Regions from separate parts of the Homo sapiens genome. Here regions 1 and 3 are each linked to region 2. The links come from fine-mapping of genetic effects on gene expression. A gene starts in region 2. Each other region holds a variant in brackets. All regions are shown on one strand. Distances are from middle to middle. Region 1 holds the start of LOC102723675 (a long non-coding RNA gene). Region 2 holds the start of CCDC149 (coiled-coil domain containing 149). Region 3 has its middle 41 kb from the start of CCDC149.

Region 1 (10,285 bases), 64 kb before region 2:
CGCTGCTTTCATACATGCAAAGAGCTTAGAACAGTGCCTGGCTCACAATAAGCCCTGAATGCAAGATTATTATTATTATCGTTACTATGCAGTCAGGTCCAGACTTCATCTCCTAGCATATGAACGCTCCATAGTCTTACCCCAGTGCTTTTACCAAGAAACCACACACACACACACACACACACACACACACACACACACACACATACCCATAATAATACATATGGGCATATGGGTAGTTTCTATATCTTCTATGCCTATTATGTTTGTGCATGTGTGTGTACAGTGCCTGAGTGTATGTGTGTGTGTGTGAATATCTATCTATCTATCTATCTATCTATATATATATATATATATATATATCTTGGGGTCTTCATATATCTCATTTCATTGCTCTGCAAATCTACCTTGAGAATAGGAGAGTGTATTAGTCCATTTTTACACTGCTGATAAAGACGTACCCAAGACTGGGCAATTTACAAAAAAAGAGGTTTAATGGACTCACAATTCCATGTGGCTGGAGAGGCCTCACAATCATGGTGGGAGGTGAAAGGCACGTCTTATATGGCAGCAGACAAGAGAACTTGTGTTGGGAAACTCCCCTTTATAAAACCATCAGATCTTGTGAGACCTGTCCGCTATCATGAGAACAGCACACGAAAGACCTGCTCCCCTGATTCAATTATCTCCCACCAGGTCCCTCGCACAACACGTGGGAATCATAGGAGCTACAGTTCAAGATGAGATTTGAGTGGGGACACAGCCAAACCATATCAGAGAGTAACTATAATTAGTTCTGTTGTACAGATAAGAAAACTAAGGCCAGAGAAGTTAAGCTGCTTGCTTAAGTTCACACAGCAACTGAGGAAGAGCTACAATTTCAACCTTCTTTGCTAGAGATTAGAGTTTACTATCCATAAATCTGGAAGCCCTAGCAATACCAATGTTATAGGTATCATGACTGAAGCCAGCCCATCTTCCACTGCCAAAGACCTGCCAAGCTCTTCCTTGGGGGACACACCAGAAGAACAATTCTCCCTGTGCTTGGGCCCGAGGCTCACCATACGGTTTCACTCCTGTCCTAGAAATGAGCTTGGAGCCGGTGACAAAGAGAAACATCCCAGTGCAATTTCAGTCTCAACAATGACAACTGATGATGCACAATAGTGGGATCTGGCCTGTAATCAGTTTCAAGCTATACTTAGCCATTTAAGCGTCCATTCTGCTCACTCCAGAGAGTGTGCGGGAGAGTCACACACCCCTCAGCTTCAGCTTCTGGCTCATCACCGCAGAGCACCATGCGGAAAAAGGACCCCTTTGTGATAGCACCGTAAATTACAGCCCAGGCAATCTGGAGTCTCAGCTAGAGTGGATTCTTCTGTCTCCTAAAAGAAAAATCTGTTTTAGGCTTAATTACAGTCTGTCATTACCTGCAATCTTATAATGACCCAAAGTCCCTGGAAAATGATAATAATAATTAAAAAAAAAGAGAGAGAGAGAGAGAGAATCGATTCAAATATGAATGGAAAAAGCCAGACAAATGCAGGGCAGGGAAGTGCTGGTAGCATTCTTCAGAAACAACTGTGCCATGAGGATCAGAGCTTTACAATGGTAAATACTTATTCTGGCTCCGTTGTCAATTTACCAGGCCCAAGGGCTCAGTGTTAACTTTACTCACTTTCTGAATCTTTAATCTCGTTGCTGTAGAATTCACCTTATAAAATGCAGGAGCAGCTCCCAAGATAAATTGATGCTGAAAATCAGACGACTGAGATTTAATAGGACAATGCTTCTCAGATCCCGCGAGGACGCATTGAACATACGAAAAGTGTTCAGTGATTGCTCTTAGTATGTTAGTAAGGAGATGCTGAGGTTTATCAGAAGACGCCTTTTAAATCAAGTTTTCTTTGTCAGTTTTCACGGACAGGACTTTCAGGTGCAGCCGACCATTGGGAGCTCCCTCTTGTGGCCATATCAGGAATGGAAATGTATCTCTTCCCACCACCCGACTTAAACCTCCAAAAGCAAAACTGAGGCCAACTGACTCAAGCTGGTGAATCCGCGATTGCGTACTAGAGAAGGGGGCCTTAGGGAAGTCTCAAAATGCTACGCTTAAATTTTCCTGGAGTCCAGATGTCCTTCTGAATCCACTAAACCTTGTGAAGCGATGTGAACGTCAGGTAAAAATCCTTTCTTTTCCTGTTTAACTGCCTCGTTATTTATGGACACAATTACTTTATATTATATACAGATTATATAAAATAACTCGTTGATTATTTTTAATTTATTGCTTGTGAGAATTCCCTGTGCATCAAAGAAGCCTTTTAAGCCGATTTTGCTTCCACAACAAGATTCTCGGGTGGATTCAGTTTACCGGAATTAACATCGACGCATTGACGTGACATTCAGTTGGGAACATGGAGCTGACTGTGTTTAGAGAGAGCTGAGCAAGTTCCCTAGGCAGGTTCCTTTTACTGTAATGGTCCCTGGGTCACAATGAGAACTTGGCCACCATCCCATGCAACTCCTCCTTTTCTTTCCGTTGCACTCTGGTTTCAGGAAGGAAATGATGACATGACTTACCCATCAGCCCTGTTTCCTGATTTTGAAACCACAGGGAATCTGCTCAATTGTAGGAACCAGGTTAGGAAAAGACTGAGTTAGAAATCATTACATTGTGAATAACAGAAAACTCAAACCAGTTTAAATAGCATATGGAATATATAGGGGCAGGTAATGACAAGTCTAGAGGTAGGCTTCAAGTAAGGCTTGATCCAGTAGATCAGGACTATTGCCAAGGACCCCACTTCTCTCCATGTCTTCTCTCTTTCTTCTAAGGTATAGCAGACCCTGTCTGTGCTCTGACCATTTCCCTGCAGCCTATCCTGAAGATCACTTGCAGACATTTCCTGTATACTTCAAAGATTGCCTGCATCTTTCTGTCTGAGGGCATTCCCTGTTCCTGGTGGTGTACACCCAAGCTGGAAATACCAGAAAGTTAACACCCCAAGATTGACCCTCAATACTAAGGAATAAAAGTTAGTTAATAAATATCCCAGGTTCCTTACACAGGGACAGTAAGGAGATATGCTGCACAGTATTTCTCAAGGTATTTCCCAAGACACTGAATCCATGTCCCCCATGGTGGCCTCATTAATTCACCCTTTACTGGCTTCCATTTGTTCCCTGTCTCACTTCCCTGCTCTCTCAAAGTGTTCCCTGCAATTCCTGTGCCCCCAAACCATTTGCATGCAGTCCTTCTCAGGGTCTCCTTTTCGGGGTAACTCAGGGTAAGAACAAAGTGCACCGCTTCCAGAAGGGAGCCATGAGTGTTGGACAACCAGCCACAGATGTCATCCTATTGAGAAATCCTAAAGACACGCCCAGGTCAGAGAAGCCAGCAGACTTCCCTTCTGGATATGGGGCATTTTACCAAAGGAAACCAGTGAGTCCGAGTAGATCTGAATCTGTGGCAAAATTGCCAGCATTTCAGCTGTGAAAAGCACACAGGATGCTAAAACCATCTCATTCTCTGGTGGGCGGTGGGTGGCGAATGGTGGGAGGAATGATGGGGAAAGGGAAGACTGTTCATTTTATTCACAGGGAAAATTAGAGACAACAACCATGGAGAATGGGTTCCAAATGCCATCCTACCCCCATCCTTGTCTCTTCATCTGAGGTTTTTCTGATTTTTCTGACTCCTCCAGAATTCACTGACCTCCCACGCCAACAACGAACCATCCCTCACAATTTAGACAAGTGCTGCCAACAGAAATAGAATGTGAACCACATATGCAAACCACCACATGCAACTTACAATTTCCTGGTGTCTACATTAAATGAGGGGAAAGAAACAGATGAAATTAACTTTAACAATGTACTTTATTTAACTCAGTAGATCACAAATATCCTTTCGATATGAAATTAATATAAAAATTATTAATAGGATATTTATATTATTTAAAAAAATCAAGTCTGTGAAAGCTGATGTGTGTTTTACACTTACAGCACATTTCAGCTCAGACTAGCCACATTTTACATGCTCAGTAACAGCAGGTAGTTAGTAGCTACTGTGTTGGACAGCACAGATTTATTTATTCATGTATTTATTTATTTTTGAGACAGGGTCTTGCCCTGTCACTGAGGCTGGAGTTAGTGGTGCAAATATAGGTCAGTGCAGCCCCAAAGTCTTGGGTTCAAGCAATCCTTCTGCCTCGGTTTCCTGAGTAGCTGGGACTAAAGGTGTGCACCATCAAGTCCAGTTAATTTTTTATTTTTGTAGAGATGGGATTGTGGTTATGTTACCCAGGCTGGACTTGAACTCCTGACCTCAAGCAATCCTCCTACCTTGGCCTATTAAACTGCTGGGATTACAGGCATGAGCCACTGTGCCCAGCCAGGTAGCATAGATTTATAGCATACCTTGTTACTATGTGTGTATTGAGCTTTTGAATTTCAAAATGCTTTCACATGCATATTATCATCTGGTCAATATTCCTAACAGGCAGACCTATGTGGTATTATCATCCCTGTATTGGTAATGCCTTAGGGGAGGTTAAGCTATTTTATCCTCTTTAGGGGTAGCAGGGCTGGGACTAGAGCTGGACTCCAGTGCTGGGCGCCTTCTACCACACCTTAGGTATTTCATTTGGGTCCACGACATCATCTTTTTTATCATCTTCAACATCTGGTATTAGCTAGACAGGCTTGTTGATTCACAGATAATATTAATTAGGATTTGTTTGGCCACAAATGACAGAGACTTGATTCAAACTGGCTTAACTATAAATAACAGAGGTGTTGGGGAGTGAAATGTTAGTTTGTAAAATGAATGCACGTGGTTTCAGGAATGGCTGGATCAAGGGAGAAATGGATATTTCCTGACGCATGGCTCTGCTTTTGTCTGTGCTTAGTAGATCTTAGGCAGCATCTCCACACAAGATAGCTAAGAGGATCTCCAACCTGCCAGCTTGGAGTCCTCGATGGAAAAAGAATACCTCTTTCCCAAAGCTCCAGCCAATGTCCTGGGGAAGGAGCTCATTGATGGGGCTTGGGTCCATGCCCATCCATGAACCAGTCATTGTACATCGTCACTAAGTCCCATGTCCACCCCAGCAACCATGAAAGCAACACAGTATCAAGGGTGGTCCCCCAAAGAAAGGGGAAATAATGGATCCCGGGCAAGCAGAAACCACAGATGTCTTCCCTGCCAATCCTGCATGCCTGTCTTTGGATTTTGTAATTAGAAATGAGGTTTGTTTGTTTGTTTTTTCCTGATCAGGTCCATCCTTTAATCAAGCCTGGATAGGCATCCTGGGAAGCGCAGAGCCTGTGTTCTAGTGTGGTCCATGCACACTCCTCTAGCGGCCAGATGTTCTCCACAATCGCACATAGCTTCCAAATCCCCGCTTGGCTCCAGAGCTGGAGTCCATTGCACACACCTGACAACACTTCTGGGAACATCCTTCAGAAAGGACACTATACCAGCGCAGGCCAGATGATGGCACACTTTTTGTTTTTTGTTTTTTTGAGAGGGAGTCAGTCTCGCTCTGTTGCCCAGATGGCTGGAGTGCAGTGGCACGATCTCGGCTCACTGCAATCTCTGCCTCCTGGGTTCAAGCAATTCTCCTGCCTCAGCCTCCTGAGTAGCTGGGACTACAGGCATGCACCACCATGCCCAGCTAATTTTTGTATTTTTGGTAGAGATGGAGTGTCACCATGTTGGCCAGGCTGGTCTC[A/G]AACTCCTGACCTCAGGCGATTCGCCAGCCTCAGCCTCCCAAAGTGCTGAGATTACAGACATGAGCCACCGCACCCAGCCTGATGACACACTTTGGATAAATGTCCTGGTGATACCTCTATACCCATTTCCACCTTCTCCAGCCCTTCACCCTGACACAGGCCTGGTTCCAGGGCCACACAGTGCCCAAGCAAGGAGGATACCTGCAGATGGCCTCAAGTGGGGGACTCTGCCTGTGCTCCATGTTGCTTTCCTTGATAAATGGACCCTGGAATTACTCTAAGGGGCCCAGATAGATTAGTAAGGATCTCTTTGAGCTCCACGTACTCTTAAAAAGAATTAAACTCATTTAAGGAAAAAGGTAATTATTGGCTCAAATAACTGAAAAATCTAAAGTAGGCACAGCTAAACACGGGGCTCAAATGATTGCCACCAAATCTTTCCTCTCTTTTCCACTTCCCTCCCTTCCCCCCTCCCTCTCCTTCCCTCCCTTCCCCTCTTTTCCCTCTCCCTTCTCCTTCTTTTTCCTGTCCCCTCTCCTCCTCTACCCTCCTTTTCTCTTCTTTTCTCTTCCTTGTATGCATGGACCACACTGGAACACAGACTTTGCCCTTCCCAGGACCCCCAACCAGGCTTGAGTTAAATGATGGGCCTGATCAGAAAAAAAAACTCATTTCTAATTACAAAATTCAAAGACAGATGCGGGATTGGCAGAGAAGACATCTGTGGTTTCTGCTTGCCTGGGACCCGTTACTTCTCCTTTCTTTGGGGGACCACCCTTGACACTGTGTTTACTTTCATGGTTGCAGGGGTGGACACGGGACTTAGTGATAGTGCACAGTGACTGGTTCAGGGATGGGCATGGACCCAAGCCCCATCAATGAGCTCCTTCCCCAGGACGTATGCTTCCTCTCTCCTCCCCTTCCCTCTCCTCTCTTCCCCTCCCCTCTCCTCTCCTTTCATCTTTTCTCTCCTTCCCTTCCCTATCCTACTTTTCCTTCCTTTCCCTCTCCTGTCCCCTCTCCTCCCCGCTTTCTTCTCTTCCCCTCCCCTCCCTCTCCTGTCCCCCTCCTCCCCCTTCCTTCTCCTTCCCTCCCCTCTTACATTCTCTCCCCTCCCCTCAAGATCCCCTCCTCTTCTCTGCCTTCTCCTCCCCTCCCCTCCCTCTCCTTCCCCCTTCTCCTTTTGTCTTGCCTCCCTTCTTTTCCCTTTCTCTCCTATCTTCTGTTTTGTCTTCCTCCCTTCCCTTCCTGTTTTAGTCTGTTTTGTGCTGCTATAACAGAATAGTTATCATAGAATACCTGAGATTGGGTAATTAATAAAGAACAGAAATTTATTTCTCATAGCTATGGAGGCTGGAAAGTCCAAGATCAAGGTGCTGGCATCTCATGAGGGGCGTCTTGCTGCAACCTCACATGGCATAAGGCAAGAGAGCAAGCTAGTGCAATGCTGCGCAAAGCCTATTTTATAAGACCTTTAATCCCATTAACAAAGAAGGAAACCTCACAGCCTCATCACCTCTTACAGGCACCACCTCTTCCTACTATCACATTGGCATCATCTGAATTTTGGAGGGGACACATTCAAACTATAGCATTTCCCTTCCCTCCCCTTCCTTCCCCCAACCCCCTTTCAACCCCTCTTTCACTCCCTCTCCTGGTTCTATTCTCTTCTGCTCACCTTTTTCCCAGTCTCTCCAGAAAAAGCACCAGGATGGGGTGGCTGAAATGGAGATCTTCAGAATCAGGGAGACCCTGAGTCCCACAGAATTGGATCATCCGAGGCCATGCAGTTGAGTGGGAAGATGTGATTCAGCAGACATTGATTGAGCACTTACTGAATGCAGACTGGTGTGGGGGGTGTAGAGATGAATAGGACATGTCTTCCCTTTAAGAAGCTCAAAGACTAGTGAGAAGGAAAAAAGAAAGCCATATTGGTTGAGAAATTCTTATGTGCTAGGGAATTACATTATGAAATCCTCATGACAGAGTCACCCAGAAAGATGCAGAAAGGTCCGGTGATTTCTGGGTGCTGCAGCAGAGCTGGGAGTTGACATCAGGGCTTCTTGGCTGCAAGGTGGTTACTCTGTCCTCTAGAGCCACACATTTGCCACTTGAAAAACGACATCTCCTGGAATTGCTGAAAAAGCAAAGAAGTATGGGTTTCCTCTGCAGAATTCAGGGATTTCACCCCTCTAGGGTTCTGACTCAGGGCGGGGGCAAATTCACGTGGGAGTGCGGGATGCGGAACTGATGCCTCCCGAGTCTCTCCTAAGCTTGTGAGTCTCAAACCACAGATGGCTGATTGGTGGGGAAAGCAGCCGGCACCTGCGGGTCACCTTCCGCCCTGGGGAGCAAACTGTCAAAAGGAGCTGTGCCCGAGGCTGACCTAGTTAGACAGTGGGCCGCACACAGGCGCTCTCCTTTGCAGGATTTGTTCCAGGCGTTTGTTTATTTGCGCACCACTTTATTTGCCACTAAAAATACTCTTCCGAAGCAGAGGCGCAACTGACCGTGACTCTTGCGAAACAGCCGAGTGCACAAGCACTGAAGGGCTCCCTCTCGGGCTTCCCGGGCTCGGGGACTGCAAGGGGAACAGAGCAAGGCCTACTTGCCTTAAGGCAGGCAGCTCTGTTCACTTCCATAACCCCAAACCCAATCCCTCCATGAGGCACTTGCTGGTTAAGAAGCAGCTCTCAGCCTGCCTGGTGGACTGTGGATAACGTTGCACAGAACTCCTCAGTTGTAACCAACAAAACTCAGTTCAGACCGGGTTAATCATACACTCACACACACGTATTGTCTCAATGAGCAAAAATTCCAGAGACTGCTGTAGGCACAGCTGGATCCAGTACCGATGGATGGCTGGAATCTGGTCTAACTCTGGCCTTTTTCAGTTCTTTTTATCCTCTGGGTTGGCCTCACTCTCAAGCATGTTTTCTCCTCACAATGTCAAGATAGCTGCCAGTAGCCTCAGGCATGCTTAATCACAGCTCCAAGTGCAAACAAAAGGGGACTTCTTTTTCTCCAGACTTTTTTTAAATGCACTTTATTGAGGTACAGTTGATATACAGTAAACTCCATATACTTAAAGTGTACAATTGGATAAGTTTTGACATATGTGTACACCCATGGGACCACCACCATGTCGACACAAAGAGTCAGACTCCATAAAATTTTTAAACAGGTTTATTCTGAGCCAAATATGAGTGACTAAGGCCTGAGGCACAGTCCCAAGAGGTGCTGAGAATATGTGCCCAAGGTGGTTGGGTTACAGCTTGGTTTTTATATGTGTTAGGGAGACATAAGACTTCAGTCAATACATGTGAGGTATATATTGGTTTGGTCTGAAAAGGTGGGACAACTTGAAGGGGAGGGTTACAGGTCATAGGGGGATTCCAAGATCTTCTGATTGGCAATTGATTAAAAGAATTAAGTTATTATCTAAAGACCTGGAATCAATAGAAGAGTGTCTAGGTCAAGATGAGGGGTTGTGGAAACCAAGGTTCTTGTTACATAGATGAAGCTTCATGGGTGCCCACCCTTACAGGCAAAAGATGGTGAATGTTTCCTGCTCAAACCCTTAAAAAGTGCTAGACCCTCAGTTAGTCCCTTCAGGATTGGGAGGGTCTGGAAGGGGAAATATCTAGTTAACAGAGATTCGTTACAGATGCAATTCCACCACAAAAACAAAGTTGCAGGCTATTTCAAAGTGTGACAAATAAACATACTTTGGGGTAAAATGTTTTGATTTCCTTCTTTATCTGTCATGTGATGTTATGCCAGGGTCAGATTGGAAAGTCAGTCAGTTAGACAGGTTTAAATAAAATGTCTCTGATGAGATTTTACAGTTTGTAGTGTGTGACTCCCCAGGCCTCTTAGGAATTTGGGCAAGAGAGGAAAAAAGGCTGGGCGTGGTGGCTCGTGTCTGTAATTCTAGCATTTGGGAGGCCGAGGGGAGCGGCTTGCTTTAGCTCAGGGGTTTGAGACTAGACTGGGCAACACGGAAAAACCCCATCTCTACAAAAAATGCAAAAATTATCTGGGCGTGGTAGTGCGTGCCTGTAGTCCCAGCTACTTGGGAGGCTGAGGTGGGAGGATGGCTTGAGCAAGGGAGGTTGAGGCTGCAGTGAGCTGAGATGGCACCACTGCACTCCAGCCTGGGTGACAGAGAGCCTTGTCTCAAAAAAGAAAAGAAAAGAAAAGAAAAGAAAAGAAAAGAAAAAGGTCAGAATTTAGTCCTCAACCACAATCAACACAGCAAACAAGTTCATGATAGCCAGGGTTTTCCTGTGTCCCTTTGTCATCCTTCCCTCTGTCTGTGAAAATAGTCAAACTCTGTGGAATGTTTGAAGAGATTTATTCTGAGTGAAAATGAGTGACCAGTCCTCCATAGATTCTGAGAATGTGCCCAAGGTGGTTGGGCCACAACTTGGTTTTATATATTTTAGGGAGACATAAGGGACCGATTGATATGTGTAAGATGTACCTTGGTTGGTTCTGGAAAGGTGGGACAACTGGAAGTGAGAGCTTCCAAGTCATGAAGATT
Region 2 (10,285 bases):
TCTTGGTCACAGCCAGGCTAGAGAGGTTGCTACCAACTGGGAGAGGGGCACGTCATTAGATAAATGCCATGACCTGGTATGGGGGTGGAGATGGATAAAAATCAACATCCGATGTTCTGAAGGACAGCCTAATGGACAATAAATATTTTACCAGCACTGGCCATTTATATGAAATGCCACCTTTTCACCTTCTCGATCAAATTGTTTTCTTTGTTTTTTTTCCCCATCCCCAAGCCCCATTATTCTTCTACAGTACAGAAGAAAAATCATTTCTGTCATTTCACTAGCAATTTCTGTGTACACAGTAGGTCCTTGATCATGTTTATTCTCTTCTTTTTTCTCCTTTTCCACCCATATCCACTGGCTAAAGATTGTCCCCCACCCTAAGACAAAAATTAGATAGGAGGGCAATGTAGGTGATCCTATTTTAGACATTCATCAGATTTTTTTTTTCATAAGGCTTCCAGAACGACAGGGTCAGTCCCTCTTCTGGCCTGCAGGAGAGGCCAGTGACCCCCAAGTCAGACGTTTCTATTTTCAGCTCCCCAAGTCCAGGGTGCAGTAACCTCCACCTCGCCAAGGGCCATGCTGCTAACCCGTCAGCAGCACGGGCCCTGCTGCCTCTCTGCGTTTCCATTTCCATAAATTTACATCAAATTTGTGCTGAATCATATCCCCCCCACGCAGAAGAAATGAAATACATTATCAATAAGTACAACAAATTTGAATAATCTGAGAGCAGATGACTTTTCCTGTCTCTTTTCCATTTAACTCCTTCCGTGGGCTGCATCTCGATCCACTTTCCCCACCAGCCTGTGGTTGGGTTTCTCCCCACCCCACCGACGCCCACGGTTTTCCGCTCTCCTCCCATGGTTCTTTATCTTTAGGCCTCTCCTCCGGCACCCCAGGCCCTGTCTCTCCCTCTGTCTCTCAGCTCCTTTCTGGTCATCCTCCTTTCTCCTGACATCTTAGTCCCCCTTCTGGGAACCCCTCCAACAGCCAAGGAGTGGCCTTTCCACCTCTGCTCCTCCCCACCTCTTGTCTCCCACAACGCCCAAGCCAATCACGCTCAAGCCTGTGCCCCCTTAGGATGACAACTGCGGGTCCCCGGCCTGCCAGGCCGTCATCAGCCCCACTCAGCCACTGTGAGCGCGGCAGTTCAGCAGGGAGTGCAACTTCCTTCCACCCCCTGCTGCCTGGCTGATTGGCAGCCAGCGGGGCTGGAGGGGAGCAGCTCGTGCTGACTGTTTGCCGCTGGGCAGGGAGGGCTTGGCAGGGGTGGCCGTGAGAGGACCTGGGAGCTCAGGGGTCTAAGAGACACAGAGGATTCCCTGAGTCAGGAACCCGGCCAGAATCCCCCATCTGCCCCTCTGGTATCTGGCTGCTGGCCCTCTGTAGGGAAATGATGGATGAGGTCCTTCCCAGAGAACCTCTAGGTAGGGGGAGGAGAGAGAAGCTTATCTTCTACAGAATTGAGGCCAGTGGTTCAGGGGACCTCAGGTCTCAGGCCTCTGCAGGAGGCCTGGCTGTGGCACTCACCAGGACCTGCAGTCTCCTGATCCTGGTTAAAACCAAGAGCAAATGAAGTAGTTTAGCAGCCAGGCTATAGGGGCTCCTGGCAGGACCTGTCAAAATGGCCCTCCTGGCTCATATAGAGCTAATTAATAAATATATGTACACACACACACACACACACACACACACACACACACACCATTATAAACCACAGTCATTATGAATCATTTTCTGCCCAGATTGAGTTTCTTAATTGAGGCAGGAGAAAAGTCACTGGGGAAAAAAAATGGCCATGAATATTGCCCCAACTATATAGTTCAGAGAGAAGCCCGGCCAAAATCTCTACTGGAGATTTGCTTAGTTTCCTTTAATGAGAACTCCAACAGCCCGAATTTTGCTTGGGCAGCCAGAATTTGAACTGAAATACTGTCTGGAGAAGTCACATCAAAAGCTTTAGGGCTTTCCCGCGTGTCTGGGGCTGCCGAGACCTGGCCAGAGTCTTCATGCAAGTAAGTATAGAACCCATAATGAGAGCTTAGGTTGCTAACAATAAGTTCAAATCATCCTTTCTTTCCCAATCTCTCCAGAGATTTTTTGTTTGTTTGTTTTCATCAGTCTGTGCTGGCTCAAGTTTTTAGATTAAGCTATTTTGGAGTTTCCATGTCTAAAACCCTCTCAAACTTTTAAAAGTGAAAAGCATCACTCAAAAGCAACTAAGTACTTTCTTCTAACACTATAGGTGCACATAAATAAATCAATAAAACTGGTCCCGGGGCTATGAATATATATGGAAAAATTAGGTCCCTAGAGATCAGTTTTCAGAAAGCCAAGGGGATGTGAAAATAGAGGCTAAAGCAAACGTCTCAATACTTTGTAACAGGGTGGCACATTTAAGACAAGGGCACCAGGTTTTAAAATGATCCTGTGCAAATGGACTGTCGGATGGGACATTTAATGTACTGCTTTTATCAGGGATAAAGATAGTTGGTGTATGGGTTTATTTCTTCTTTGAAAAAAGTTAACCACAATATAATTAGCTCTCTTTTTTGTCAGTCTGGGCTGCTGTTGATGAGGTGTCTAGAGGCCTTCTGGTATAGGTGCCTAAAAGCTTAAACTGCATTTAATTATTATTATTACTCAATGTCAGGCTACATAAATGAAAAGAGATAAAAAAGAATTGCTTGCAGCTACATTGCCTTGGTTTGTGATTTCATCACATCTCACAAGCGAAGCAGGTTTGAGCTGGCACTTGGGGCATGAAACCTCTAAGGAAAACCCAGGCAGCTAGAGATGCTGTTTCAACCGAGTTGAAAGTCTCCCCACATGCTGGGGAGGGTAGAGGCTTGCCACACTTTGATTTTGCTCCCCAGCTTTATTTTTAAATACCGTAATAACTGTCTGACTTATTTCGGAGAAGGAAAGCAAATAGGGGAAATGGAGTCACAGGGAGAGTGGTCTTAAAGGCACATAGTCTGGAATGCGAAGATTTCTTGGCTCCCAACGCTCATTGATTGTCTGTCCTGCTGCCTGAAATACCAGTGAGGGCGCCAAAGGAGCAGTGGTATATCATGAAGGGCTCAGCTAACTGTGGAAACTGGAATGGGCTTTCCCACCTGAATGCAGGCAGAGAGCAAGGTGCAGACAAGGAGGCTTGAAAGGCAGATGGACCAAGTTCTGCCCACTTTTCCTACAGTCTATTTATCCACAGGTCAGGATGAAAACAGATGGTTTGCCAGAGGGCAATATATTGGCAGACAGTACCTTGCTTTTTAGGCATGAGACGTCAGGCTTAGGAACAAGTGCTTGGCACTGAGTTAATTAACTCTAGACATTCAGCTCAAGGATGACCTTCTTTCTAGCTCCTTAGATTAAAAAGATAATGAGTTAGGCAGCCCAGAATGGTCAGAAGACCAGAAGCTTTAGCTGCATTCTAGCCCCACCTTTTTTTCTGCTGTTCTCTAGCACCTTAGTTTGCAAGCCCCCTAGGACAGGGACCATGGTGTGCAATGTTATTGAACTTCCCCAGGATGAGTGCTGCAGTTGTATACAACAGGCAGAAAACCAATGTGCTGACTAGTATACTGGTTCCTTTTCTTAGCTCCTGGCCAGCCAGTCCGTTGTAAAATTTTCTTTAGATTATGATGCCAGGGACTATTGCTTTTTGAAGGGCTGCCAGGGAGAGTTCAAGCCATTCAGGCCCTTCATCAGTTGTGTCACCATCCATTTCAGTTACCTGTTGATACCTAGCAAATCGCCCTAAAACTTAGTGGCTTAAACTACAACTACTTATTTAGTATGTGATGCTGTGAGTCAGCTAGTTGAGCAAGGCTCAGCTGGATGGTTCTTCGGCTGGTCTCAGCTGGGCTCACTCATGTGCTTGTCATCAGCTGTGCGGGTGGGGGTGGGGGGGCGTGGAGGGGGCGGCAGGCAATGGCCTCACTCACACATCTGGTGATGGTTGACTGTTGGTTGGGAATCCTACCTTAACCAGCAAGCTATTCGGAGCTTATTTACATGGTTTCCAAGAGCAGAAGCAAGAGTTAAATCCTAATGCACAATTGCTTTAAAAGCCTTTTTTTTTCTTTTTTTTTTTTTTTTTTTCTGGTAACACATGTACAAACGTTGCTTTGGTCAAAGCAAGTTACATGACTGAGCACAGAGTGAAAGAGACAGTGGCAGGGCAAGGGACAAAGAAGGGGAATGATTGCTGCCATTTTGCAAACAGTCTATCATGTGCAAAACAAGGCCAAGAACAAACTTTCAAGGTGATACTTCATTCTTAGATTTCCAAGATGCTAGAGCCAGAAGTCCTAGTTGAGTCCCTGTTTCTCCACGTTTCAGGCCTCAGTTTCCCCATCTAATAAATGAGGATAACATCCATTTCACAGGGTTGATCCAGGATCAACAGGGGCTAAAAATTATAAATAAATGTTGGTAATGATGCTTCCACAACTGTACAATGGGTTCACAACTTCTCAACCTACTTGCTCATCTCCACACACAGCGTTTCTGCGAGTACAGAGGGCTCACTATTGATAGTGGTCCAAGAGGGGATTTTAGGTGTCACAGGAACAGCACCTTGAATACGATTGACTTATGTGTGTGATTCACCTTCCCTCTGTCATTCTCTTTCAGTCTTTCCTCTTAGGAGAAGTCTCAGCTTAATGCCAATGCCTTCCCCTTTTGCTAATTATTTTATTTTTTGTAAAGAGGGGGTGTGTCACTTTGTGGCCGAGGCTGCTCTTGAACTCCTGTCCTCAAGGGATCCTCCTGCCTCAGCCTCCCAAGGTGCTGGGATTACAGGCATGAGCCATGGAATGCCACCAGTGCCAATTTGTCTTTGACACCTCTCTCAACCCATGCTAACCATCTCCCTCAGAGTTTTTGGCCCTATTTAGAATTGAATAATGCTTTATTTTCAATTTTTACATTTGCTTTCTATTAATGACAAATGATACGTTAAAAAATATATAAGCAAGCACTAATAGTTTAAAAAACAATGCTAAGTATATAATAAAACGTGGTTCATTCATTCTTGCGTTCAACAAATATTCGTCCAATAAATATATGTAGAGCATCTCCTATGGGCCAGGATCTTGCCAAAGGCACATCTGCGAACCAAGGAAACCCCTGCCCTCGGGGAGCTTGCATTCTAGGCGTGGGAGTCGTGATGGTGGTCGGAGAAGGACTGGATTTGGGGATTTGCTTCTTGCGGGGGACACAGGCCTGCCCGTGGGGCCCGCCTCCCGCGCGGAGAGCGCTGAGGGGTCCGGAGTGACCTGTAGGCTGAGACCCTGGCTTCCCCTTGCCTAGAGGCCGGGCAGGAGGCGCGGAGCCCGAGGTCGCGGGGCTGAGGGCGCGGGGCGGGCCCGGCGGGGCTCGGCTGCGGCCCGGGCTGTGTCTGCGGCCCCGGCGGCCGCGCCCCTCCTCCCTTTCCCTCCGGCGGAGGCTGACGTGGAGTCAACAGCGCTGGCGGCCGCGAGAGGCGGCGGCGCAGCGGCTCGGAGGCGCCGGGCCCTCTCGGGGCCGCGCGGGGCCCGGGCGGCGGCGGCGACGCGACGTCGCGAGGAGGAGGAGGCGGCGGGGGTCCAGGAGGCCGGCCAGCGCATGGAGGAGGAGGCCATGAACGGCGACCGGACTGAGAGCGACTGGCAGGGGCTGGTGAGCGAGGTGAGGCCGCGGCGCCGGCCAGGCGGGATGGGCCGGGCCGAGCGGCCGCCAGCCCCGGGCCCGCGCCCCCAGAGAGGCCGAGCTGGGAGGGACGAGAGGGGGGCGCGCACTCCAAGTGGCCGCGGCTGCCGCACCCGCGCGACCCCGCCAGGTGCGCCGCTCCTCCTGCACTTTCGGGTCTGCGCGGGCGCCACTTTCTTCCGCGCCATCTGGTGTCAGCCTTTGGGGAGGGGCCTTCCCCCCAAGGCAGGGGTTGGCCCTGGATTGGAGGCTGAAGCCCTGGGATCCGGGAGCAGAAGGTGCCAAGCCCCACCTGCCTGCCCGCTCGCCACTGTTGTGGAGCCAAACAATTGGACGCCTGGGACTGAAACGGGAAGGTGGTGCCATGGGGGAGAATCCGAGCCCTGGGGTGGAACCTGGGCCAGGTGGAATTACCTGCGGCGGTGGTTCGAGTTGGGGGAGTTCGGGGGTCCGCTGCAGCCGTTCACTCATTCACTTGCTCAATTCAATCAACACGTGTTTACTGCAGGCCTACCATGTGTAAGGTGGGGAGGGGCATTTATCGAAAAAGTGAAACACAGGTGCAGAAGTGATTCGATTTGTGGAAGCACAGAACACCGTGTCCCCCTGCCCTGCGACTCTTTTGTCATAAACATACCCTGGGGGTCCACTTTCAGGATCCTATGCTGTTTGCTCTTCAGTTCCCCCTAAGAGTTTGCCGGCCTGCCGGGAGAAGCTGCCGGCCTCTCCAGGTGAGAGGGAATGCGGATTTCTCCCTCTCACCTGGAGGCAACCAGGTAAGTTGCCCTGGTTTGCCACCATTTGTGGGGGCAATTCCTGGTGTTACTTACCCATGCCGGGGAATTTCTCCCTTCTGAGAACCAAGCTCCAGCCAAGGCCAACTTGGGGCTTCCTTTTCTTTAATCCTGTGCACACAATGCAGAGTGTATCGGTTTGCTCTTTTCCTTTCCTTGTGGGTTATGGGAAGGGAAACCCTCTACTCCCTCACTCCTTTCATCGTTTTCTGGGTCTCCAGGTCAGTCTGATAATAGTGCTTCATGCCCAGTGTGTGCAGAGCGTTGTGTTTCTGAAGAGGAATGACATGCGGTAGCTCCTGCCCTAGTTTAGTTTGCTCAGCATTGGTCTAGTAGTTGAAAGCTCTCCTAACTGTCTGGTGTTATGATCCATTGTATTGCAGCCTGGCTCCATCTTCTCAAACTGTCAGGCTTTATGTTAAGGGGCAGATCCTCTGGGGACCTTGTTTCTGGTCCCATCAAGAATCATACTTAGTAGTCAAGGAGGCTGGAGGTAGTTCTCCTTAGAAGTCCAGTGTTAGGCCCTTAAATAGCAGCAGAATCTTCACTACTCCAACAATTGCATATCAGGTGCCTGTTAGGAGTCAGTACATTGTGAGGTGCTTGGGATTCAGTGGTGAATAAGACAAAGAACTCCCCTACCCTCAAAGAACTCCTGGGGGTTTCATGATATAGTCTGGGAGGAAGGTCATACCGTAGACAGTGAGAGTGAACTAAAGGATGGAAAGGCTTCAAGTGCTAAATGGCATGGGGTGCCCCTCAGTTGGCTGGGCTTAACCTTCACCTTGCCCTGACCACATTATTGTAACAATAGGCTTCCTCACTAGGCCGTGTGCTTTGTTTGGTTCTTTATTCCAGGGCCTATACACAGAGCTCTGTATGCAGCAGGTGCTCGAAAAATGCTTGTTGAATAAGTCAGTGAATCCTGAAGTAGGTCCTTCAGGAGTTTTCCTGCCCATCCCAGCAGAGTTTCTCCAGAGTAATACCTCCTTAACTTCACAAACATGAGGTGGGCACGTAGCCAGGGGCCATGGGGGAGGTGAAAATGGGTCTAACTTACTTCCCACCTTAATAATAACTAATGACTATTTTTTGAGTGCATCCTTCATATTAAGCATTTTACATGGCCTCATATTCACAATGACATAAGGTAGGAATTCTTTCTTATTTTACAGATAAGGAAACAGTGGCTCAGACAGGCTAAGGAACTTGCACAGAGCCTCACATCTGGTAAGTGGAAGAGGCAGGATTTGAATCCTGGTCTGTCTGACTCATTGCTTGAGCCTTGCTTGTCTGAGCCTTGCTAGGCCACACTTGCTATTTTAATCATTGCTCATCTGTCTGTATCTTCTGCTAGATGGCAGGCTTCCCAAGGAAGGAGACCATGTCTGATTCAACTTTGAGTCCGCAGCAAATGGCTTGGTGTTTCTTAGAGTATGGCCTACAGATCACCTGCATCAGAGTCATTTTGGGTGCCTGTGAAAAATTCAAGTTTATGGGTCTCTCCCAAATTTACTGTAGTGAGTTGAATTATGTATCCTGCTCCCCCCACCTCCCCACCATAGCTGCATCCGAGACCTAACCCCAGTAGCTGCAAATGTGACTTTATTTGGAAATAGGGCCTTTGCAGATATGATCAAGTTAAGGATCTTTAGATGAGATCACCCTGGATTTAGGGTAGGTCCTAAATCTAATGACTGATACCTTAGAAGAGAAAGGACAGAGATTTAAGCCACAGACACACAAGGGAGCAGGCTATGGGAAGACGGAGATGCATGAAAGGAAGACCATGTGAAGACAAAGGTAGAGATTGGAGTGATGCAGCCACATGGCAAGGCATGCCAGAGGTCGCTGGCAGCTCCCAGAAGCTGGAAGAGGCAGATTCTCCCTCAAAGTCCCCAGAAAAAAACAACTGTTGACACCTTGCTTTTGGACTTCCGGCCTCTATAACTGTGAGTGAATACACTCCTGTTGTTTTAAGCCACCCCGTTTATGATCATTTGTTACAGCAATGTATTAGTCCGTTTTCATGCTGCTTATAAAGACATACCTGAGACTGGGTGATTTACAAAAGAAAGAGAGATTTCATGGGCCTGCTGTTCCACATGACTGGGGAGGCCTCACAATCATGCTGGAAGGCAAGGAGGAGCAAGTAACATCTTACATGGATGGCAGCAGGCAAGGAGGAGCAAGTAACATCTTACATGGATGGCAGCAGGCAAAGAGAGAGAGCTTCTGCAGGAGAACTCCTCTTTATAAAACCATCAGATCTCGTGAGACTTATTCACTATCACGAGAACATTATGGAGGAAACTAGCCCCATGATTCAATTATCTCCCACCAGGTCCCTCCCACAACATGTGGGAGTTATGGGAATGCAATTCAAGGTGAGATTTGAGTGGGGACACAGAGCCAAACCATATCAAGCAGCCACAAGAAACTAATACACCTACTGCTGAAAAGTGCCTGGGGTTGCAGCCCCCTGATCTGCCTTTCTTACAAGCTGAGCTGCCCAGGTAATTCCCCTGCCCAGTCAAGTTTGGCTGGCAGGGGTTCCATGGGTGTGACTGGGTCTGGTACCAGACAGGTAAGATTCAGGGAAGAGTGTGCTCAGCAGCTGTGGTGTTACGAAATGGTTTGGGGACCTGGCAGAAGGACCTGTGGAAGACATCACTGCACAGCTAATCTGGACTACATGGGATTTTCGTGGGCTTGCATTTATTTCTGCAGAAGTCCTGGGTGCTGTCTCCCACCCTGGATCCCCTCTCCATCACCTGCCCAGAGCCCCGTCCTCTCTTTCAATCAGTTGCTTCCTCCACTTGCCTCTAGGAAGCAGTTTTCATTTAAAACAATCCTACAGAGGTCAGTTTTATTTTCATATATTTGGTATAATAAGCTGAAATTACAGCCTTCTTTCAGGCCTGGAAGTAAACACACCCATGCGTGTGAAAGAAGCATGACCAGGGTTCTGTTTTGGAAATTAAATGTCTGGGGAGGGGCAGATATTCTTATCGCCACCTGAGGTGAGCTTTCAAGATTGGAGACATCTCAAAGTACAGGTATGCAGGCAATCAATAACTTTTTATTTCCAAGATAAAAATCCTGGTCATCGCTCAGCCCACCACTCTATGATAAACTATACATAATTCCATTTCACTATTTGAATTTTGGTTAATTAGATAGCAATCAATCTCCTATTCCTTGAGCATGTTGTATGCAGGGGCCAGGAGGCAGAAGACAGTTAACCATGGGCCTCCGCCCAAAGTAGAGACTGATTTTTGGTTTTTGTCGTTGTTGTTTTAGAGATGAGGTCTCACTCTGTTGCCCATGCTGGAGTACAGTGGTGCGATCATGGCTCACTTCAGCCTCCATCTCCTGGGCCCAAGGGATTCTCCTGCTTCAGCCTCCTGAGTAGCTGGAGTTACAGGCACGTGCCACCATGCCCAGCCAATTTTTTTTTTTTTTTTTTTGTAGAGATAGAGTCTTGCTATGTTGCCCAGGCTGATCTTGAGCTCCTGGCTTCAAGGAATCCTGCCTCAGCCTCCCAAAGTGATGGGATTATAGGCATGAGCCACCGTGCCTGGCCTAGCCACTGATATTTGGAAAGGAGAGGTTGAGTAGGTATAGAGTCCAGCTCTGTGGTTAAGGTAAAGACCCAGCTTTGGGTTTCAGTTGTTGACTTAGACTCTGAAGATAATAAGAGACCTGGGGGGAAGTCTTGGCCCTGCCTTTCTCTTGGTACAAAAGATCAAAAACCCAAACCAAAGTGGATCAGCTTAGAGGCA
Region 3 (10,285 bases), 41 kb before region 2:
CAGGAGGCTGAGGCAGGAGAATTGCTTGAACCCGGGAGGCGGAGCTTGCAGTGAGCCAAGATCGCGCCACTGCAGTCCAGCCTGGGCGACAGAGCTGTGGCTCTGCCTGCGTGATCTCGGCTTACTGCAACCTCCACATGCCGGATTCAAGTGATTCTCGTGCCTCAGCGCCTCAGCCTCATGAGTAGCTGAGATTACAGGTGTGTGCCACCACACCTGGCTATAATTTTAGTAGAGGCAGGTTTTCGCCATGTTGGCCAGGCAGGTCTCAAACTCCTGACCTCAAGGGATCTGCCCGCCTCAGTCTCCCGAAGTGCTGGGACTACAGGTTAGAGCCACCGCACCTGGCTTTTTTTTCTTCTCTGTTTTTCATTTTGGATACTTTCTATAGCTATGCCTTGATCTTCACTAATTCTGCAATATCGAATCATCCATGAATTGCATATAGTGCATTTTTTTTTACCTCAAGTATTATAGTTTTAATCTCTGGAAGTTAGAGTTGAGTCTTTTAAGATATCTTACAACATATGAAAATGATTATAATGACTTTTAACGTCCTTGTCAACTGTCAGATCTGGATGGTGGAATAGTTGATAGAATTAGTGGATCTCAATGTTATGTGCCCATCTCTTTTGTTGTAAAGTGGGTCTTTGGTCTGAAGAAATGTAATGTAGGATCCCAATGTTAGCAATCAGACACTTTGTGAGCTTTAGATAGTGGTGCTTCAGATAGGTAGTCTGAGGCACTGCAGGCAGAAAGGCAAACCATCTAGAAGAAACAATCCTGATCATGATAAAGCACTGCCGTTTCCAAAGGAAAGTCTTCTGGTATAATCAATTTGCTTCAATGTGGCTAGTTGGACTCTTCAAGGTACGCTACCATATGCAGGGCTAAGTATTCGTCTCTACTGTTGGCAAATCACATATCAGCAGCATTAGTAGGTCAATGAGCCCTGGTGAGAAAGAACCTATGCCATTGAGTCATAAAGAGCTTCTATATCTGCCACTGTGACTACTTCATTCATGAACCTATTGCATAAAAACTGGGATGACCAAGGACAGACATTTCCTGATGTCTACTGGCTGAGGCACCAGCCCCTTTGGTTGTTTAATGTCTCTTTTGCACCAGATACTCTCTGGTGAACTTGGGTGTACTATATGAAGATACTATACTTGATGTCTACTCTCAGGAGTCCACCCACATCCTTCCTAGACCTTCCCATTCCGAATCTTCCAATCTTGCTTCTTCCCATTCCCTTATTAACTATGTAAGTCAGGAGTCAGCAAACTTTTTCTGTAAAGGACCAGATAGTAAATATTTTTGCTTTTGTAAGCAATCCAGTTTCTGTTGCAACTCTGCCATTCTTGCAAATGCAGCCACAAACAATATGGAGATGCACAGACATGGTTATGTTCTCATAAAACTTTATTTATAAAAATAGGCATTGGCCTGGATTTTGCCTATGGATCAGAGTTTGCTAACCCGTGATGTAAGCATTGCTCATTGCTTATGAATACATGTATTCCGTTGACTTAAATTTCTTATTGCTCCATGGAAAATAGACAACCAGGTACACTGGCCCCAGTCTTTTAGGGCTGTACCTGAATGGGATTGTACTATGGTGGTGGTCCCTTTTAGGCCAACACCTTCATATCAAGTCAATAAATCAGTAGGCTGAGTTTGGGCTTAATACTCCTCCTTCAGCTAGTTGTAGAGAACCTCTCATAAAGTTATACATGTGAGCTTAAAGAGGAGAGTCAATGAAACACTGGTAGATTACATGAGGATCTGTGCTACTGGTTTGGGGAGATGACTTATGCCCTCTAACCCCAGAGGTACCATTTCTATCTAACAATGGAAGGTCCCTGGATGTGCCTGATTTTGTTGCTTGGTGGATTTAACAGTTCTCAGGTTATAAAAGACAGCTCTGGCCACATGATACTTCATGGTCAGATAGTTTCTACCAGAGCCCAGTTGTATGCCAGGAGCTGTGTTTTGAGTAGAGTTCTCTGCCATAGATTTCATGGCTTTATTCCATAATTCTAGGGATTTGAGCTCCAATGTTGGAGCCAGAGATTCCACACAGTATCTTTTTGTGATGTGCTTAGTACCATGGGATTTCTTGGTCACATAGCTCAAATAGCAGGGATGCTTATACTGTAGCCTAGGCCTAGTACAGAGCTCTTTCATGCTCTGGGCCCCATTCAAGCTAAAAGCCTCAGGTCAGCTGATAAATTAGATTGTATACACTTTCTCAAGTGTGAATGAAGTATGCTACTTCCAGAACCCAAAGAGACCCGCCAAGTTTCTGCTTCCTTCTTAGTGGTAGGCGATTCAAAATACAATAAATTTATTTGTTTATTTATTTACTTTGGATGAAATGTCATGGCCTGCCTCAGGCCACTGAACACCTATAAATTTAATCAATGTGGCAGACCCCTGATCCTTCGTAGGGTTTATTTCCCATCTCCTAGAGTGTCCTACTGTGGCATCCATAGTACTTCTCGCTCACTGGGCCCAATTGCTATGATATCATCGATATAATAGGCATGGAGGGCCCCAGGTAAGGTATGTGTGTGGGTGCATACTGGGGAGAGCTGAGGTAGTGGATCACTAAAGTAATTTATATTAATAGCCCGAAATTACCTAGGTCTGGTTTAGCTCTCGCAGGAATGGCAATATAGTAATTCAGAAGTTTAGGCTGGAGAAGAGTCAGAAGGTTGTCAGCAGCCTTTAAATGAACAAGATAGCTTTAGAAGTCACTTTGAAAGTCTTTACATATGTTAATAGAGGGTCACTGAGAGGGTGAGTTGGAACTATCAGGCCTGGGGCAAGTTCAGAGAAATCCTTGTTATGGGGTTAGTTTGTGTAGTTTGTGTTAACTAGGTTTGCTGTCATCTCACAAGAACTTTGTCCTCTAAGGCAGCAAAAGGAGAAATGACTCAGCATACACCCAGTTAATTTGGGAGATGATACATGAAAACCTTGAGGCCTATATTTTTGCCTCTCAGTAGTCTAACAATTGGGCTCCAATTATTTCAGAACCACCGCTAGAGTCTAATATATGCGTTAAACTTTCTGCCATCTCCTTAGATGAAGATTCAAGCAAAGATTGTGTTCCTCTATTTGGGGTTGTAGGAAGGGTGTGAATAAAGTGTTACTCAACTGAAGTCTCTATAAGAATTTTCTTCAAACTTTTTATTGTGGTAAAACACAAAACATAAACTTTACCATGTAACCTTAAGAGTACAGTTCAGTGGCATTAAATACATTCATAATATTTTTTAATACCATTGCCACCATATCTCCATCACTCTTTTCATCTTGAAAAACTGAAACTCTATTACCATTGAACAGCAACTTTCCATTTCTTCCTCCCCTGGATTCTGGCAACCACCCTTCTACTTTCTGTCTCTATAATTTTGACTGCTCTAAGTACCTCATATAAGTAGAATCATACAATATTTGTTTTTGTTTTTGTTTTTTGTGACTGGCTTATTTTACTTAAAATAATATTCTCAAGGTTCATCCATGTTGTAGTATGTGTCAGTGTTTCTTTCTTTATTAAGGCTGAATAATATTTCATTGTATGTACATATCACATTTTTCTAACTCATTCTTTTGTTGATGGATACTTGGGTTATTTCCTCATTGCTATGGTTTTAATGTGTCCTCTCCAAAATTCACGTGTTGTCAATGTGATAGTATTAAGAGTTAGGGTCTACAAGAAGTGACTAGGCCTTGAGGGTTCCTTCTTCATTAATGGAACTAAGGCTCTATGAAAGAGGCTACTCAAATGCAGAATATGAGTAGTTTGCCCTTTTTGCCCTTCTGCCTTCTGCTGTGTGAGGAGAGAAGGTTCCTCCCCTCTGGAAGGATGCAGTGAGAAGGCCCTCACCAGACACCAAATGCTAGTGCCTTGATCCTGGACCTCCCAGTCTCCAGAACCAAG[G/A]GAAAAATAAACTTTTCTTCTCCATAAATCACCAAGTCTCAGATATTCTGTTATAGAAACACAAATGGAGTAAGACAAAAGTTGGTACCAGAAGCAGGGTGTTGCTATAACAAATACCAGCAGCAAGGCATCTGAGATACTGTATATCTTAACTACTTATAATAAAATGTAGAGAAATTATTTAATTTATAATTAAAAGGGAAGCAGAATGTAGAAATTTTAAAAATTCTCAGTTTAACCATGTAAATAATTAAAAAGCATGTTTAGGGGAGAAAACCAAGAGTATGACCAAGCAACCATTTGATAAGATCAGTATGAATAGAAAGCACCCAGGTGCTATTCATCAAGACAGTGGGAGAATGACACTGAAGGCATTTTGGAGCTCTTCAGTGCTGCCATGCTTATCACAGGCCCAGAGTGCTAGGACCTTGGGGACAGAACTGTTTCTAGGGAGGGGGCCTCAGGACTCACTGCTCAGGGCCATCTTGAATCTCTGCTCCCTGCATTCCAATGCAGTACTCCTTGCATTAGAAAAAATCCAGCTGTGGCTCAAGTGGGCCTAGGTGCAGCTCAAGCCACCACTCAGGAAAGCACAAGTGGTGAACTTTGGTGGCATCCACATGGTGCTAATGCTGCAGGCATGCAGAGTGTACAAGCTGTGGAGTTATGGCTACCTCCACATGGATTTAAAAGGATATCTTGGATAGTCTCAGAGCCCAGGCAGAGACCTACCACGGAGGCAGAGCTTACAGAGAGCCCTCACTAGCACAAAACATAGTGGAGTCTTGGGGGCAGGGCCATCCCTGAGACCTCAGAACTGTAGAACCACCAGCATGCAGCACCTGCCTGGAAAATCTGCAAGCATATGACTTCAATGCATGAAGCCTGGGCTGTACCCAGCAAAGCCATGGGGGCAGGGCTGTCTTGAAGCTGTCTATGGGTCTTTTCTAAGTTTATCCTACTTGGAGCTTGTTGAGCTTCTTGGATGTTTATATTAATGTCTTTCATAAAATTTGGGAAGTTTTCAGCCATTATTTCTTCAAATATTCTCTTGGTCCCTTTCTCTCTCTTCTCCTTCTGGGACCTCCACAATGTGTCCTATAGGTTCTTTAGGCTTTGTTCACTTTTTTTTTTCCATCTTTTTTCTTTCTGTTCCTCAGACTAATAATTTTCATCATCCTAAATTAAAGTTCACTGATTCTTTCTTCTGCCTGCTCAAATCTCTCTTTGAATGTTTCTAGTGAGCCTTTTGTTTCAGTTATTATACTTTTCAGTACCATAATTTCTTTTGGTTTCTTTTTAGCTTTTCTCTCTTCTTGATATTTCCCTTTTGTTCAGACATCATTTTCTTGACTTTCTCCACATCTTCCTTTAGTTCTTTGAGAATCTTTAAGGCAGTTGTTTTAAAGTCTTTGGCAAGTAGAGCTGGCATCAGGTCTTTTTCAGGGACAGTTTCTGCTGATTATTATTTTTTCCTCTGAATAGGCCATACTTTGCATGCTTTGAAGTATTTTTGTTGAAAACTAGACATTTGTATATAATAATCCGGTACTACTAGAAATCAGATCATCTTGCTTCTCTAGAGTTTGCTGTTTGCCAAGGATCAGGTTGAGGTATAAACTTGAGGTCTTTTGGGGTCTTTTCTGAGCATGTGCCTTTTCCTGGCTATGCGCAGTCACTTTCTAATTTTGCTAGTACAGGCAGTTGTTTTTGAATGCCTTAGTCTTTAATGTTTGGGTCTCAAAAGGCAGAAAAGACAAAAATGAAGCAGGGGGAGCCCTTTTAATCTCCTGGAAGTCATTTCAGCTGGAGAGGGAGGGACTTGTAACAATGCACATGTTCCTGGAGGAAGCTGCACACAGCTTGCAAGAGCCAGGGTGGGCAAAAAGGGCCCCATCCTCCAAAATCAGGAATCTGTGTTCTGATCACTGATTGCTACTCCAGTGGAGCCCCCAGCCAGATGCTAGAGAAGTGGTATCCCTTCAATTCTCAGATGTCATCCACTTGCCAGTCTTCTCTGGACCCAATAGACAGTGGGCAACAATTGGAGGGGGGCAAGTTCTGTTACTGGGGGAATGAGCACTTTATTGGAGGGTCAGGTTGCTCTCACAGAGCAGCCCAGTATTGTCAGTCACATTCCACTGGCATCACAATCACCTTCTAACAGATGTTCTCAAACCTAGACTTCTCATAAAAAATCTCTTCCGAAAAGACAGATACTCTATGATTCCACTTACATGAGGTGTCTGAAGTAGCCAAATTTATAGAAACAGAAAGTAGAATGGTGGTTGCCAGGGGATGGGGAAGATGGGGGGAAAGGTGAGTTATTTAAGGGGTACAGAGTTTCAGTTTTGCAAGATAAAAAGAGTTCCGATGACGGATGGTGGTGGTGGTTGCACAACGTGAATGTACTTAATATCAATGAATTGCACACTTAAAAATGGTTAAGAGGGTAAATTTTTTGTTATGTGTCTTTTACCACTATATATATATATATATATATATATATATATATATATATTTTTTTTTTTTTTTTTTTTTTTTTTTTTTTTGAGATGGAGTTTTGATCTTTCGCCCAGGCTGGAGTGCAGTAGTGTGATCTTGGCTCACTGCAACCTCTGCCCAGCCCCCTGGTTCAAGCAATTCTCCTGTCTCAGACTCCTGAATAGCTGGGATTACAGGCACCTGCAACCATGCCTGGATAATTGTTGTATTTTTAGTAGAGATGGGGTTTCACCATGTTGGCCAGACTGGTCTTGAACTCCCGACCTCAAGTGATCCTCCTGCCTTGGCATCCCAAAATGCTGGGATTACAGGGATGAGCCACCTTACCCAGCCAAAAAATATGTTTTAAAAAGTAACTTAAATTTCGCCTACTTCAGAACTGAAATGGCTCCAAACCATTAATAATAGAATACACATATGTATAAACAAAGCCGAAGGTTTGAGGCGTGCACGTTAGCACACACTGCACACAGATGTGTACACGTATGCTTCACCATGCTTCCAGAGGAGTGGGGTTGTGAGTGCCCTAAAGCCTAATTGAGAGAAATTGTTGGGGACTTTATGTGAAATGATGAGAAAGAGGATGATCTGAGAAGGGAACAGTTTAACTGAAGCAAAGGCAATGAGCACCCAACAAAAAGAGGACTCTCCTTTCAAAATTGAGAAAGGAAAAGGTCTCGTCCTTCACAGAAACTCCTTTTCTTCTAAGACCAAAGGTGCCCCATTAATATACAGCACTTACCTCTGCGGAGTTTCAGAGGGTGCATCTGCAGTGTGGGCTTTAGTGAAGATTTGGATTATTAACATGCAAATTAATAATAATAATTCCTGCCCCTCGAATTGCACTTCTTTCTGAAAGGCCTCAAAGAGCTTTACTGTTTACCATTCCACACAAAATGCTGCTTTCTCTAATAACACTGTGAGGTATAAATGGCCACAAAACAGATATAAAAAGGAAACAATTTAAATACAGTCACTATCACAGGTGCATTTGGGATGGGAAATGTATTTGGTCGGATAAATTGTTATCAGTCAGCTTTTCCCTTCTTTTCTGCTTTTTTTAAGCCACCAGAAAAACCCAGAGTAAGTTACCATGAAAAGCTATAATAATGCTAATTTTGTTCCCATTTCCTGGCTTTTTCCACTAGACTTGAGGCTTTTTAATATGACTTTAAAATTATTTTTCCCATTAATAATAGCCTCTCTTTTGTGCTCTGCTCTTTTGAAGTTGTATTATTATTTACCTCTATGACTGACTATGGCATATTTGCTGTTTAAAATCGACTCCTAATGCATGAAAGCACATTCCCAAGGGCCACGCTGTCCACCCTGAAGTTTAAAAGCTTCCAAAAATGAGAGGGGATGCATGATTCTGAATGGAAACATTCGGGGCAGCTTGCCCTGAAGGCTCCTTGGGTGTAGGCAGATCTGGACTGTGGAATGAATTTAAATGAGGAGGCATGCATGGGATCTGTCACTTGCTGCCTGCAGCCCGGGTGACAGCCTGGGCACCCACGGAACCCACACATGTGGTGATCACCCACTGCAGGTAGCGATTTCCTGTGTATCCCTGCCTGAGGCCCCCTTCCCCACTCCCCCAGCTTGACAACACCTGCTTTTTAACCTAAAGGGGTCCCCAAAGATACATAGATGCTGAGCTATGATGTTGAGGGAATCTGTTTCCCAAATGCTAGATTTGAGGAACACAGGGAGCAGCCAGTCAAGACATGAGAAGACTTAATTCTCATTAAGTCAACTTCCTGTGGCCACGTTGGCCAGGTCCTGCTTATTAGAGGTTCTGAATGGTGGCTACACAGGCCCCAGACCCCTGAATTGGGAAAGAAGTTTGTTTCCTTAGTAAACATAGCTTGTATGGTGGGGAAAAAATGTGTTTATTGAATACGTGAATGAATGAGTAAATGAAAAATAAAGGAACTTGTTATTACCCTCCACTGCCACCCTAAGGGGTAAGTACGATAATTATCCCCATTTCATAGATGAGAACACTGAGGATTGGAGAAGGTCTAAGTGCTTGCCAAGATTATGGAGCTGGCTCATGGCAGGGTTTAGATTTAAATCTTTGTCTTACTCCAAAGGCTGGGATTCTCCACTCCCCTTCCAATGTTCTGCTCATTCCCAGCAGCCATATTCCCACCCCCGAGTCCACTCGATTTGGGGTCCATACTGAAATGAAAATAGTAAAGTGATGTTGAGTAATAACAACTAACATTTGCATTGCGCTTACTCTGTGTCAGGCACTGTGCTAAGTGCTTTGCAGATACTAATTAAATACATTTTCACAACCCACCTATGAGGTTGGATTAGAATCACCCTTCACAGATGAGAAGGCTGAAAACAAAAATAGTATTACTTGGCAGCAAGTGGCAAAGACTGGATTCAGCCCTGGGCAGTTTGGCTCCAGAGTTCATGCTCACAGCCTTTGCATTCTCACTGTGATATAGACAGGGGCTCTGGCATACTCTCTCTGCCACCTCATGAGGCTGAGGAATGTCAAGGCTGTCCTTACCAGTTTCTACCAGGACAACAATTTCTCTCTTGAGTTTCCAGGTCAGGGGTGACCCCTGCAGAGATGGCTGTTACACACAGATGGTTTCAGCCATGTGCCTCTGGTATGAGCCAAACTCTCTGATCCTTGGCATAACCTATGACCTCTGTCGCCATCCTTCTCTTCACGGCCACCTCTGCTGTCCCCTCTGTGCACCTGCAGGTTCCTAAAGCAACCACCCACCTTAGTCACAGGCCCCGGGGAGTCCACGGATGAATCCCTGACAACATCTTGGGGAAAGATCCCACTGGTCTTATTCTCCTGCCTGCCACTTCCTTCCCACGCAGGGAATTAGATCCTAACTCCACAATGCACTGTTCTTGCTGTTTTCTCTCAGGTTGACAGAGCCCGAGTCCTGCTTTCCTGGCCTCAGTGCTGCTGTGGATGAGAAATATCTCAGGGCCCTTTCTTTCTGGCTCTGAGGTTTTCGTAGTTGGCTTGTGTGTTTGCAAATGTGTGTAAGCCCCTTGAGACTAGGAATTCTATCTTATTTACCCCTTAACCTCAGAACCTAGCACAGCATCTGGGTCAGTAGAGGTGCTCCACTGGTGTTAGCTGAATGAGTGAATAAACAAATATAGGAGCTCAATATATTTGAATAATGACAGATGAGGGAGTCCCCCCACCACCCCCCCTCCCTGCCACCACTACCTCTCTACAGCTGACAATTTGGAAGGAATCTCAGAAGCTGGAAGTGTCTTTCTGCACAGGATCAGGTCCCTGTAAACGCATGAGGGTGGGGCATACTGTGTGCACGGAAGCCCCAGCTACATTCAGGGCAGAGCCTCTCTGGTCTGTTTTACCTAAGAAGTCTCCGAGTGCATCTGTCCCAGCAGGAAAGAGATGCCACATTTCTGTGGGGTCTTGAGAAGAGTTTAATGAAGAGGTTATTTCCAACAGAATGGACAGTGTTCCAGGAAACCCCAAAGGCATGATGAAGCCCTGGAGGCTAACAACAGCCGTTGCTACCCTTGTCTGAATGGGCAGGATTAGGGGATTCTATTAGTCTGTTTTCACACTGCTGATAAAGACATACCAGAGACTGGGTAATTTATAAAAGAAAGAGGTTTAGTTGACTCACAGTTTCACGTGGCTGGGGAGGCCTCAAAATCATGGCGGAAGATGAACGAAGATCAGAGGTACATCTTACATAGTGGATGGCAAAGAGAGAGTTTGTGCAGGGAAATTCCCCTTTATAAAACCATCAGATCTCATGAGATTTATTCACTATCACAAGAACAGCACAAGAAAGACCCACCCTC

What was found.
Region 1: its variant is fine-mapped to the expression of CCDC149 in whole blood (TOPMed, PIP 0.96).
Region 3: its variant is fine-mapped to the expression of CCDC149 in whole blood (INTERVAL, PIP above 0.99).

Annotation. Positions count from the first base shown.
Region 1 is chr4:24,971,964-24,982,248 of GRCh38, reverse strand. LOC102723675 (a long non-coding RNA gene) reads right to left here and starts at 2,431. Exons shown (of 6, transcript XR_007058082.1): 1 at 1,679-2,431. It also overlaps a transcript of CCDC149 not described here. The variant A/G (reference allele first, on the strand shown) is at 5,739.
Region 2 is chr4:24,908,217-24,918,501 of GRCh38, reverse strand. CCDC149 (coiled-coil domain containing 149) reads left to right here and starts at 5,460. Exons shown (of 13, transcript NM_001395273.1): 1 at 5,460-5,685. The coding sequence starts at 5,638. RefSeq lists enhancers at 525-1,093, 1,094-1,663.
Region 3 is chr4:24,948,815-24,959,099 of GRCh38, reverse strand. It overlaps a transcript of CCDC149 not described here. Among named protein-coding and RNA genes, the nearest start is that of CCDC149, 41 kb to the right of the region's middle. The variant G/A (reference allele first, on the strand shown) is at 3,953.